Homo sapiens: one gene and its partners. The protein of the gene in region 3 purifies or fractionates together with the protein of the main gene of each other region. This does not show direct contact. Each region holds a gene or a part of one and is shown on either strand. Other genes may lie near its edges.

Region 1 (3,749 bases), on a different chromosome or scaffold from region 3:
GTTTTAATTATGTAGGAATTTCTTTTCAGAAAAAAATTAATGTCAAATGCCTTCTACATTTCTATGAGAATGCCAAAAAATAATTTTCACCTATGCATTAGCCCTGATCTAGTCTCAAAAACACTCAGAAAAACACAGAAGAATCAATCCATATGTATGTTGCAGTAAAAAAAGGATGGGGCTAGCCTGGATTTGAATCTTATTAACCTACGTAATAGATGTGAATAGTCATGTATAAACAAAACCTAGGCCATATACTTCCTTTGTACCATCTGAAACTTACACCAGTGGGCTCGCAGTACAACAGGTACTAAAAACATATTTTTAGACAGAAATGAAATGAAATGGGTCTCTTTAAATTGATCTGAATTTCAGAAACTCCCCAATCTCCCTCATAATATTGACAAATGTTAATTCAGTAACTTTTTCACAATAGATATATGCAACATTTATAAATCTATAATGCACCTCTTTCATAATCTTTTAACTTCATTAACTCCTCCCTTTCTCATAGATTCTAACAGACTTCAATACCACTAGTTGATTACTAGAGCAAAAACAAATTCTTGCCAATTGATGTTTATATAATGTACATGATAGACGCAGTAATAACATTTAAAATAAGTGTAACCAATTAAAAAAGCATATATTTATGTGACAAATGCTGTCTGAAGCATTTTGTGTATGTGACTCCAATTAATCCTTATAGCTATTGCATGAAATACATAGGATTAAATTCAATTCACAGAAGAAGAAATGGCAGTCCAAGAAAGAAGCTGACCACAGTCACACAAATAAAATAAAATAGTGCCAGGATTCTAACCCAGGTCTGTTTAAATACAATGTTTTCTTTTTGTACTAACCATGAAAGGAAGCTTGATTTGGGGAGATACAAAATAAATAACTTCATATAAAAGTACTTAATTCCTCAATACATATAAATATATATGTATTCATGGTGAACTGGCTAAAAGTTATATGTTGAGTTTGAATGCAGATGTTTCATATGTACTAGTGTAACATTTTAATTAAAAGCAATGGAAGCAGTAATAATTATAAACCACAGGAAAGACATAATCCTATTAAGAGTTATCTCAGTAGTATAATTGGCTCCAGGATATCAGTGAACACCCACATGACTGATATTTGAGGCCAAAAACACCTTCTGTCTTGATATGGAGGATTATGAGCAAATGAAGTCCAGAAGGTAAATATGTCACATTTTAAAATCAAAGTCCCAATTATAGATAAAGGTGTAATCTTACAATGCCTTATTAAATATTTTTAATTAAGGTGGAATATAAACAAAATAAAATTTTCTTTACAGTTTTAAGGACTGAAGGGCTCTGCAACATATTTGTCATGCATTCATACAGCTGAGAGGCAGAAAAATAAATTGGCCAATCCTCCATTTTGATCTCCTCTTTAGCTGTATTGAAGCCTGGATTATATCAAATCTCATCAGATTTTCTTTGTCATGATATTTTACGACAATCTTTTTTCAGTCTCATTGTCTTCTAGTTTTAGTGTTCCAAACTATTACTTACATTTACGCTAATTATTAGAATTCTCCCACAGTGATCAGACATCTTTATTTTACTAGGGGTTCCAGCTTTCAGCCCTTGTGTTGTTGCCAGTTTATACAGAGTTTGGTAAGATGCTGTATTCAAATAGTTAAAGAAAGGTATGATTGCTTAAAGATCTTCCATAACTGAATCAGTATTTTGACTCTAGATCTTCTTAGTGTCCTTATCAATTCCTTACTGTTAATATTCATCTTTTTTTATTATTATACTTTAAGTTTTAGGGTACATGTGTACAACGTGCAGGTTAGTTACATATATATACATGTGCCATGTTGGTGTGCTGCACCCAGTAACTCGTCATTTAACATTAGGTATATCTCCAAATGCTATCCCTCCTCCCGACCCCACAACAGGCCCCGGTGTGTGATGTTCCCCTTCCTGTGTTCATGTGTTCTTATTGCTCAATTCCCACCTATGAGTGAGAACATGCGGTGTTTGGTTTTTTGTCCTTGTGATAGTTTGCTGAGAATGATGGTTTCCAGCTTCATCCATGTCCCTACAAAGGATATGAACTCATAATCTTTTTAAAAGTGAATTTTTCTTCTAGAATGTAACAAAGGAGGCTACCAAATTCCAGCACACTTTACAATTAAGCAATCAGTCAACACCATTTGCTATCATTAAGATTAAGCAGATCCAATCTAAAAATCACCCTCCATCAAGATCCATCATTAGTCATTAATCTCCCAGATTTTAATTAAACTACCAAAACTATTCATCTGAATTCATATGCAAAGGATAGAATTTTTCTTTAAACTGCCCACAACTTTGGTGGGCCAAGCTGAAAGGTTCGCTTGAGCCCAAGAGTACAAGGCCAGCCCGGGCAATATACTGAGACCCCCATCTCTATTTTAAAAAACTGCACTGAAACACATATCAACACACTCAACTACAGAAATATGCAGTACCTTAAAACTACAGGAAGCTACCATTAGAATCAGTGACTCCTCAAATCAGATAATCAGACACATTTCTACTATCCAGCTAAACTCCTTAGAAAGGAGAAACACTTTAAAGTAAAACTATGGCCCACAAAACAGCTTAAAGTAGGAAGTACAAGCATGTTTTCAACAACTCTAACTCACAAAATAGTTTTAAAAAGTTAAAGCTTTAAAAGTCTTAATTTATTTAAGAATATATTTCCAAAAGATCTGCAGTGCCCAGTCAATAAAAGGAAGGAGAAAAGAAATGACTGATGCTTACACATTCAGTAAAAATATATCCATTTAAATCAATAAACAACTCATGGCTTTGTATAAAGTGGAATCTTTATTATCTTTTTTGGATCCATGATTCTCCTTCCTCCCCAGCAGCAAAGGCAATTATGATAAAAGATGTTCTGAAAATTTTTTTGCCATCTCTGCCAATTTATAACCCATGACTTTCCTTGTTTCAAAATTTGTAAAGTCCACTTTCTCCAAGTCTTTCCCATTATGCTTCTATTTTCCAAATTCGCTATTTTTAATCTCATTTTCCTAGTTAATCATACAGAAAATTCCCAATTACCTTTTCAAATGAATAGAAGTCACAGTATCAGTAATTCCGAAACCATTTCTGTTTGACTTAAAATGCATTTGATTTTGTGGACAATGGACTAAAATCCCTTTTTCATTTAGGGTAAATGTGAATTAAGTTTATAACCCTTTAACATTCACTAACTGATCATTCAAGGAATGGGCCTTGTGATTGTGACTGTGGTAGCAGTACAGTAACAGATAGCAACTTGGTTTGGCTACAAATATATATCAAAAGTACTAGTATTCAAATAGTTAAAAGCTTGCTGCAGCTGCATACATTTCGTTTAGATATATATACTTTCAAAGTCTATTCTCATTATCCTTGCCGGTGGAGGGGAACAAGGTCTTGAACAAAAGAGTACTGTTTCAAAATAATTCTCATTTCCTTTCAAGTGTGCAGATATTCACAATATACTGGCTGTAAATTCAATCTAAATGAAGAAGTGCTGTTAAGTTACTGCTGAGGCCTGGGAAAGTGACCAATGTCCAATACTAACCTTCTTTGAAACCATCCCAGGAGAGTTTGTATTAAAGTCATCGTTGACAAAATTCAGACTGTATCCAAACAGTACACTCACAAAGCAAAATAACTTCTAAAAGCATATAACTACTATTAACGGACTTTAAAATGCTAATCATTTCATTG
Region 2 (2,804 bases), on a different chromosome or scaffold from region 3:
GGCTAATAAACAGCAACATTGGTGGTAGCAGTAGAGAATACACATAGGTTTAGCAACATGTTGGACTTTACCACTCTCGCTTACAAAAGCCTATTTAGCTGTCAAGACTATTAGGTGTCCAACACACAAGCAACAAAGTCCAAGGCTAAGCACACAATAACATATCCTGGGTGAATAAACCAGTCACCTTTTGTCAGACTTGTTGATTTTATTGGAGCTCCTCTATGATAAAGGCAACAAGGAATTTTGTAAATGGAATCTACCTTTATCCTTGAATTACATTTGCTTTACCTGACATCATTTTTCTCTGATCGCCACTCTCCACGGGTACATTGAATGCCTTATATATACTGCCATAATATCCTGTTCTACATCCTTCTATTAAAAGAACTTGTTGTATAACAAATGAGTAGATATTCATTGGACTCACCTGGTCCACCATTTATCCTATCACTAACCAAAATTATTATTATTATAGAATGGTGAATATTTTATTAAAGACTCAATCACAGTGCCAGCTGGAGACAATGGCTTATAAGGTTGTACTCATGCTAGAGGATGTGGTGGTGTATCCTCTGAACTAGTAACTAAGTATAAGCTTGTCTGGTGTCTCCCATATAAAAAATACAACAATCTTTGATATTTGTTATGAATGTTGAAGTGACTCCTTTTGTCATTACATCTAATGATCCACTCCAAATACTTATCTCTTGTCTCTGAGATTCTAGGTTTTTGCAGAATTAGTACCCAAAGGGAGAGTCTTAGCAGTATTCCATTTTACAATCCATCCTTCGTTAGAGGATGAGAGACTTCTATCTAGCCTTTTAGGTTGCCTGAGACCTTTAAAGAAACAGTCAAAAATTTAAAATTTAAAATGCGGCTACACTGTTGCATGGGGTAGTAAATCTTGACCTTAAAACTGGTATTTGTAAGAAAAACAGAAAGAATTCAGGGATCCCCTTTGATGGCTCCTAATTCTATACAGTCCTGTAAATATTCCTGAAGACTAACCAGGCGTGGTGGTGCACACCTGTAATCCCAGCTACTCCAGAGGCTGAGGAAGAGAATCACTTGAACCTGGGAGGCAGAGGTTGCAATGAGCTGAGATTGTGCCACTTCACTCCAGCCTGGGTGACAGAGCAAGACTCTGTCTCAAAAAAAAAAAAAAAAAAAAAGAAGAAAGAAAGAAAGAAAGAAAGAAAGAAAGAAAGAAAGAAAGAAAGAAAGAAAGAAATGAAGACTGCCACAACTTGGAAGCAACCAAGATGTCCTTCAATGAGTGACTGCATAAGCAAACTGTGGTATATTCCTACAGTGGAATATTATTCAGTGCTAAAAGGAAAAAACTATCAAGCCACAAAAAGATACAGAAAAAACAAAGACATTTTGCTAAGTGAAAGAAGCCAGTCTGAAAAGGGTACATACTGTGATTTCAACTATACGACATTCTAGAAAAGGCCAAACTATAAAGACAGTAAAAAGATCAGTGGTTATCTTTGCAGACGCCGCCATCGCTGTGAGCCCTGTACTATCAGCCATGGTCAACTCCGTCATCTTTTTTGACATCACCGTCGACGGCAAGCCCTTGGGCCGCATCTCCATCAAACAGTTTGCAGACAAGATTCCAAAGACAGCAGAAAACTTTCGTGCTCTGAGCACTGGAGAGAAAGGATTTCGTTATAAGGGTTCCTGCTTTCACAGAATTATTCCAGGGTTTATGTGTCAGGGTGGTGACTTCACACACCCTAATGGCACCGGTGACAAGTCCATCTATGGGGAGAAATTTGATGATGAGAACCTCATCCGAAAGCATACAGGTTCTGGCATCTTGTCCATGGCAAATGCTGGACCCAACACAAATGGTTCCCAGTTTTTCATCTGCACTGCCAAGACTGAGTGGTTGGATGGCAAGCATGTGGCCTTTGGCAAGGTGAAAGAACGTGTGAATATTGTGGAAGCCATGGAGCACTTTGGGTACAGGAATAGCAAGACCAGCAAGAAGATCACCATTGCTGACTGTGGACAATTCTAATGAGTTTGACTTGTGTTTTATTTTCACCACCAGACCCATTCCTTCTGTAGCTCAGGAGAGCACCCCTCCACCACATTTGCTTGCAATATCCTAGAATCTTTGTGCTCTTGCTGCAGTTCCCTTTGGGTTCCATGTTTTCCTTGTTCCCTTCCATGCCTAGCTGGATTGCAGAGTTAAGTTTATGATTATGAAATAAAAACTAAGTAACAACAACAACAACAAAAAAGCTCAGTGGTTGCCAGGAGTTTGGGGATGGGTAGGGAGATAAATAGTTCTGAAACAGGCGATTTTTAGGGGATTGAAAATACGTTGGTAATAATGTAATGATGGGTACATGACATTATGCGTTTTGCAAAACTCCTAGACCTGTACCACACAAAGAGTGAACCCTAATGTAAACTGGGGGTGGGATAAAGGTGACAGTATGTGAGAACTCTGTACTTTCTGCTCGATCTTTCCATAAAGCTAAAACTGCTCAAAAAATAAAGTCTATTATTTTGTTAAATGAAAGAAATTAACAATGACCATGGCACGCTCACACAAAAAGATTATCAAGGACATTTCTCTGTCAGGAATGAATATTTGGTCATCTCACAAGGCAAAACCCTGACTAGCAGAGGTGTTAGCTGAGGGCACATGGCCATAGATGCCAATAGTGACCTGCTGGCCACTTGCAGAAAGGAGAGCCTTGACATCCAAACACATTGTTTCTCTTGTATTGTCCTGTGCATACTTATGTATCTTAACAACTTTCCTTCTTTCCTCTCCATTT
Region 3 (3,749 bases):
CAAATTTAACCAAGCATTAGTGGGTTATAATTTAACTAAAAAATTCTAGCTAAGTGTGGTGGCTTACACTTGTAATCCCATCAATTTGGGAGGCCAAAGCCAGAGGATTGTTTGAAGCCAGAAGTTCAAGACCAGCCTGGAAAACGATGAAACTCCATCTCTACAAAACACGGCGAAACCCTGTCTCTACAACCACCACACCTGGCTAATTTTCATATTTCAGTAGAGATGGGGTTTCACCATGTTGGCCAGACTGGTCTCAAACTCCTGACCTCAGGCGATCCGTGTGCCTTGGCCTCTCAAAGTGCTGGGATTACAGGCATGAGCCACCATGCCTGGCCTACAAATTTTTTTTTTTTTTTAATTAGCCAGGCGTGGTGGCACGTGCCTGTAGTCTCAGCTACTCACCAGGCTGAGGCAGGGGGTTTGCTTGAGCCTGTGAGGTAGAGGCTGCAGTGAGCTGTGATCACATCACTAAACTCCATCCTGGGCAACTGAGACTCTATCTCAAAAAACAACACCCCAAAAACACTCTGTAAATCTACAAATGCAAATCAGCCTAGATTATGGAAAAACATAGATAATTACAATCAACTACTAGTCCTAATACCAATAGTAATAACCTTAAATAATGTTTTATAAATGTTTATCAATATTACTAGCTCCCAAAATATATCCTGACCACCTTGGAGGAGAATATTTTAACTTGTAAATGACATAAACAAATAAATACGAGATTAAAAGTTTAAGGAAAGGCTCTATATAAAAATTCCTTAAGATGACACTACAGATTCTTTTATTTACTAAGAAAATGCCAATGATACCCTGTCATAACAAGAAATAACCTAATATTGCTTAACCTTAAGATATGCCTATTGTAACAGATCCAGACCTATTTTTATTATACTAAATAAATTAAAACTTCTAAAGCTACATTTAAGAAAGTCAGAATTTGCCTCTCCCTCTCCCTCGTCTCCCACTTTCCAGGGTCTCCCTCTGATGCCGAGGGGAGGCTGGACCGTACTGCCGCCATCTCGGCTCACTGCAACCTCCCTGCCTGATTCTCCTGCCTCAGACTGCCAAGTGCCTGGGATTGCAGGCGCTCGCCGCCACGCCTGACTGGTTTTTGTATTTTTTGGTGGAGATGGGGTTTCGCCGTGTTGGCCGGGCTGGTCTCCAGCTCCTGACCGCGAGTGATCTGCCCGCCTGGGCCTCCCGAGGTGCCGGGATTGCAGACAGAGGCTCGCTCACTCAGTGCTCAATGTTGCCCAGGCTAGAGTGCAGTAGCGTGATCTCGACTCACTACAACCTCCACCTCCCAGCCGCCTGCCTTGGCCTCTCAAAGTGCTGAGATTGCAGCCTCTGCCCGGCCGCCACCCCGTATGGGAAGTGAGGAGCGTCTCTGCCTGGCCGCCCATCGTCTGGGATGTGAGGAGCCCCTCTGCCCGGCCGCCCAGTCTGGGAAGTGAGGAGCGCCTCTTCCCGGCTGCCATCCCATCTAAGAAGTGAGGAGCGTCTCTGCCCGGCTGCCCATCGTCTGAGATGTGGGGAGCGCCTCTGCCCCGCCGCCCCGTCTGGGATGTGAGGAGCGCCTCTGTCCGGCCGCGACCCCGTCTGGGAACTGAGGAGTGTCTCTGCCCGACCGCCACCCCGTCTGGGAGGTGAGGAGCGTTTCTGGCCGGCCGCCCCGTCTGAGAAGTGAGGAGCCCCTCCGCCCAGCAGCCGCCCCGCCTGGGAAGTGAGGAGCCCCTCCGCCCGGCAGCCGCCCCGTCTGGGAAGTGAGGAGGGTCTCCGCCCGGCAGCCGCCCCGTCCAGGAGGGAGGTGGGGGTCAGCCCCCAGCCCGGCAGCCGCCCCGTCCGGGAGGGAGGTGGGGGGCAGCCCCCCCGCCCGGCCAGCCGCCCCGTCGGGGAGGGAGGTGGGGGGCGCCTCCGCCCGGCCACCGCCCTGTCCGGGAGGGGGGGGGCGCCTCTGCCTGGCCGCCCCGTCTGGGAAGTGAGGAGCCCTTCTGCCCGGCCGCCACCACGTCTGGGAGGCATGCCCAACAGCTCATTGAGAGCGGGCCATGATGACGATGGCGGTTTTGTCGAATAGAAAGGGGGGAAATGTGGGGAAAGGAAAGAGGGATCGGATTGTTACTGTGTCCGTGTAGAAAGAAGTAGACATAGGAGACTCCATTTTGTTATGTACTAAGAAAAATTCTTCTGCCTTGGGATGCTGTTAATCTATAAACTTACCCCCAACCCCGTGCTCTCTGAAACATGTGCTGGGTCCACTCAGGGTTAAATGGATAAAGGGCGGTGCAAGATGTGCTTTGTTAAACAGATGCTTGAAGGCAGCATGCTCCTTAAGAGTCATCACCACTCCCTAATCTCAAGTACCCAGGGACACAAACACTGCGGAAGGCCGCAGGGTCCTCTGCCTAGGAAAACCAGAGACCCTTGTTCACATGTTTATCTGCTGACCTTCCCTCCACTATTGTCGATGACCCTGCCAAATCCCCCTCTCCAAGACACACCCAAGAATGATCAATAAATACTAAAAAAAAAAAAAAAAGTCAGAATTTGTTTTCCAGAGCAAGTATACATTCTCATTTTCTGAGAAAATGGTGTAATGTCTCTAAATTAAATTAAGGGGCTGAAGGAACAAATCACAATTTAAAACATTCCTACATTATGCTATCACCCTATATTCCTAAACCTATCTAAATATGACAACTTGGCAATTGTTCCTCTATATAAACTGGATTTATATATGGCAACCAGGTTTCTAGTTCAAGTCTAGTTTATAAAACAACACAAGACATGGCTGGGTGCAGTGGCTCATGCCTGTAATCCCAGCACTTTGGGAGGCCGAGGCGGGTGGATCACCTGAGGTTGGGAGTTTGAAACCAGCCTGACCAACATAGAGAAACCCCGTCTCTACTAAAAAAAATACAAAATTAGCCGGGCATGGTGGCACATGCCTGTAATCCCAGCTACTCGGGAGGCTGAGGCAGGAGAATCACTTGAACCCGGGAGGCCGAAGTTGTGATGAGCCGAGTTCACGCCATTGCACTCCAGCCTCGGCAACAAGAATGAAACTCTGTCTCAAGGGAAAAACAAAAACAAACAAAAAAAAAACCCAGCAAGACATAAGACTTAACTTATAAAAATGTCTATTAAACACAATTACTACACCATCAAGTTTATTATAATAGATAGAAGCCATTATCTGCTATTTTTAACAAGATTCATAGAGCAAAATGGAAAAAACTAGAAATCAAACTTACATAGCAACCCACATGGAAAAAAACAAAAAATAAAAATAAAATCAGTGCTAGCATCTAAGAAAACATGTAAATTATCATGTCACTGCTGTTTCCATGGTAGCAGACTAGTATATATAAAGAATAGATTATAATAGATATAATAATATATTAATATAAAAAAGAACAAAAAGATTTAAGGGAGGAATCAAAAATAAATTCAAGTAATCTGTAAAACATTTTCCTATTTTTTTTTTTTTTTTTGGAGACGGAGTCTTGCTCTGTTGCCCAGGCTGGAGTGCAATGGTGCAATCTCGGCTCACTGCAACCTCTGCCTCCCGGGTTCAGGCCATTCTCCTGCCTTAGCCTCCCGAGTAGCTGGGATTACAGATGGGCGCCAACACGCCTGGCTAATTTTTGTATTTTTAGTAGAGACGGGGTTTCACCACGTGTGCCAGGCTGGTCTTGAACTCCTGACCTTGTGATCCACCTGCCTCGGCCTCC
Region 4 (3,749 bases), on a different chromosome or scaffold from region 3:
CACAGAGGTATAAATAAAACAAGAATGGAAGAATGCTGATAACTGTTAAAGCTGAGTGATGGAAGTTCATTATATAGTCTGTTTACTTTGTATATACTAAAACTTTTCCAGAATTAAGTCTGCTACATCAAACAGGGATTTTTTCCTATTTTAAAAATTAAATTTTTTAAATTAAAAAATTTTTTCTTACTAATCCTTAATTTTTACCTATTATTTGTTTACTCCAAATTTATTTTTATCCTTCTTAAACAGAACATCCCAAACCTATAACCTTCAGGTTTCTAATTAATCCAGAAGATTCGATAAAATGTATTCTATTGATCCTGATGATAATCCTTACATCATACTAAGTATGTGTGCTCTTAAACCTCTCAAATGTATGTGAATTTTAAACAGTTGTGCCTATGTTGAAAAATTTCATCACCTTTAAAACTGAAGCAGAGTTATTCTAAAAATGTTTTCAAGCATACACAACATTTTTCATTTCTATATATTTTTTATCAGGAAGAACTCTTAATTACTTTGAAGTCTCCAGTGGCATAAAAATCAGAGTCACACTTAAAAGGTTCATTAGAAAGAGTCACATAAATATTTCCGTTGTCTACTGTCACTGTGTGAATCCTTTGCTTTATTCCTTTGGAGCACCACTTGGGTTTTGCTGATGGATCTTTAGGGTTTATAGACTGGTACAGACCTTCTCCTGTTGCCAAAGTAATTTTGTATTTATGCCAGGGGCAAACTATACACGGTCGTCCATCAAAATCCTGGGGAAGAGAATAACTCATTTAATATTCTGACATGTCAAATGTTCTTGATAGACTCTGAAGAGTCTGCTGCAGAAGAACCAGGTTAAAAAAACAGGTTAGCTTTTCTTTTTTTCCTCCTATGTACAAATTATTCAGCATAAAGCAGATCCTAATCTGAGAAGAGTCATCAAGCTCTTTTACAGTTGATTAGAAAGCCAGTTAGAGCTCTATCAGAAGACTGACATGCTCAGGCAACTAAACCATGTGACTGCAGCTGTGCTGTTATCTATTAGATGTTAATGTCGCCTCCTTGACAGAAATGGGGCAAGGACTTCAAGTGCTTCTATAGGAATTTTCACTAGCTTCTAGAAGAACTGTAAGGTTCAGATATAAATTCAAAAGGAGTTACTAAAGGCATGAGTGCATATGATAATAGAAGAGCAATTTGTGATCCAAAGTAGTTAATTCTCAACTTTTTAACTGTCTTGGTGAAGTGCTTCTCAAACTTTAAAAAACATAGGAAGCACCTGGATCTTGTTTCAATGCATGTCTCTCTGTTTAAATGTAGTAGGTCTAAGGGGTTGGGGTGACAAGATTCTGCATGTCTAAGAAGCTCCCATGTGACACCAAAGTTGCTGGTCTATGGACAACAGTTTGAGGAGCAAGGTCTTCAAGCTCTCATTATGGACTGAAACTGGAGAAAATTCTATGGAACTATTATCAGCTCACACATGTAAGTGGGTGCTTTCATTTTCCCCTCTATATCCAAAAGTGCAGGAATACTGATTTGTACTTTCATAAAACTGTCAGCAAAGATTCACATTTTCATAATTTACATTACATAAAACTGTCAGCAAAGATTCACATATGTGGGTTTGGACAATGGGAAAAAATAGAAAAAATAAACACACATACGTTCTTTAACATGAGGACAGGTGTGTACACTCATCAAGTGTAGAGAGAGTGGAATGCTAAGTTCAAGCTTGTACTTTGCATCGGTTAGAGAGAGAGAGACCAATTTCATGAAGAAACAAGAAATTAGGTGACTAGTTTTGGAATCCAAGGAAGCAAAGACAACTTCCCCCGTTCCTCCTCAGTTAAGACTACAGTGTGGTTTATTTCTTTAAAAATATATTTATACTGTATATTTTTGTTATATTATAAAAATAATATATACTCATTTTAAAAATTCAAATTATGCACAGTGTATACAGTAAAAAGTGAATATTCTTTTTGATGAAAAAAGAGATCTCATAAGACTATTATCATCCTATGACGTGCTTTTTTCAGTCACAAATACATTGTTCACATCTCTCCATACCCATATAGATCTGCCTTATTAATTTAATGATTGCATGGTACAGTTATTCCACAGCATGGCTGTATCATAATTTATTTAACCAGTTTCCGATTGTTAAAACATTTAGGTTGCCTTCAATTATTCATTATAATAAATAATGCTACAATGAATCATTCCTATACAAATACTTAAACATCCGTGCAATTATGGCCATAGAATAGATATAGAGTATAATTGCTAGGTCAAAAGATAAGCATATTTCTCATTTATCTTATGAATTCCCAGAATACTTGGAATTATATTCAAAGCATTAAAATATAGTTCAAACCAATTATAAATTATTTTTGAATATATTTATTTGCTGAATTTGCTGAAAATAAATTTAATTTTACATACCTCTATATCTCCCAAATGTAAAGGTCCTCCTGAGTCTGAAAAGGAATTGAATATTACCTGCAGTCACTAAAAAACTGAAATTTTGATAGTTTCATGGTTTAAAGTTTTACAAATGAAAAATAAAATCTTACGGTAACAGCGAATATCCATAGCATGATATTCTCCCTTGTGGTAGAAAATGACCACTTCTCTATCATGGACAACAGCTGTCATTCTTTCAGATTTTTTAATGTCATCTTCTCTGCCCACACACACAGAAGAATATTCCCTCTTTTCAGGATCTTGTGCAGAGCCATCAAGATTCATGCTAGTTGAACATAAAGAAGGAAAGTTACAAGAAGTATTCACTAATTTGGTTCCAGCTTAATGGAGATAACCCTAAGAATGAATAGTTCGGACTTTTCAAGATTAATGGAGGCACTTTCTGTAGCTATATAAAACATTTATAAATACTAGATTATTATTATTTTGAGACAGAGTCTCACTCTGTCACCCAGGCTGGAGTGCAGTAGCACGATCTCAGCTCACTGCAACCTCCGCCTCCCAGGTTCAAGGGATTCTCCTGCCTTGGCCTCCCGAGTAGCTGCGATTACAGGAGCCCACCACCACACCTGGCTAATTTTTGTATTTTTAGTAGAGACAGGTTTCTCTGTGTTGGCCAGGCTGGTCTCAAACTCCTGACCTCAAGTAATCCACCCACCTCAGTCTCCCAAAGTGCTGGGATTACAGGCGTGAGCCACTGCGCCCGGCCATAAATACTGGATTATATTAAGTAGGTAGTCATTACTTTGCGTTAGAGACTCTTAAAGACTGCCAAAATTAGGGAGGATTCCTCAATCTGAGGCTAGAGTTGTATTAGATTCATTTCAAGGTCAAGAAGGAAATTTCAGAACTTGTAAAACATAGAGATTTAAGTTTCACTATCCCTTTATTTCCTATCAAATTCAACACTAAACAACATTCAGTTATCTGCATTGTTTTCAGCCTTCTGCTGAAAGCAGGATTCTTTGATTGTCTGAATAGTCTTCAGCCTCTTGGCTAAGGTGGTCCACTTGGTTTTGCCTGGAGTACACAGTTGGCTCTTACAGGCACAACCAGATAGCTATTACAGCAAGAGAAGGTGGGTATGAATGAAAACCTTTCATTTTCTTACCTCAGATAAAAACTGGTCACTGAGATGACAGCTGAGCTGAAATGCCCAAAATGCAAATGAACTAGACATGCCAACAGCTTGGGGAAGAGAATTCCATACTGAAAGAAGAGCAAATACAAAAGCCTGAAGGAAAGAAAAGTCTTGGTGAATGTGT

What was found.
Region 1: the proteins of QNG1 (region 3) and DPYD fractionate together in Homo sapiens (co-fractionation; one large-scale study listed by BioGRID). This does not show direct contact.
Region 2: the proteins of QNG1 (region 3) and PPIAL4G purify together in Homo sapiens (affinity purification with mass spectrometry; one large-scale study listed by BioGRID and IntAct). This does not show direct contact.
Region 4: the proteins of QNG1 (region 3) and RFESD fractionate together in Homo sapiens (co-fractionation; one large-scale study listed by BioGRID). This does not show direct contact.

Annotation. Positions count from the first base shown.
Region 1 is NC_000001.11:97,914,410-97,918,158, forward strand, and holds part of DPYD (dihydropyrimidine dehydrogenase [NADP(+)]), read right to left. Parts: intron 1-3,749.
Region 2 is NC_000001.11:148,481,986-148,484,789, reverse strand, and holds PPIAL4G (peptidyl-prolyl cis-trans isomerase A-like 4G), read left to right. Parts: upstream 1-1,487; 5' UTR 1,488-1,537; coding exon 1,538-2,032; 3' UTR 2,033-2,242; downstream 2,243-2,804. UniProt on the Homo sapiens protein: PPIases accelerate the folding of proteins. It catalyzes the cis-trans isomerization of proline imidic peptide bonds in oligopeptides.
Region 3 is NC_000009.12:83,946,558-83,950,306, forward strand, and holds part of QNG1 (queuosine 5'-phosphate N-glycosylase/hydrolase), read right to left. Parts: intron 1-3,749.
Region 4 is NC_000005.10:95,653,061-95,656,809, reverse strand, and holds part of RFESD (Rieske domain-containing protein), read right to left. Parts: exon of another isoform or gene 3,694-3,749; coding exon 3,596-3,693; intron 2,750-3,595; coding exon 2,574-2,749; intron 2,478-2,573; coding exon 2,443-2,477; intron 1,480-2,442; exon of another isoform or gene 1,315-1,479; intron 862-1,314; exon of another isoform or gene 765-861; coding exon 501-764; 3' UTR 1-500.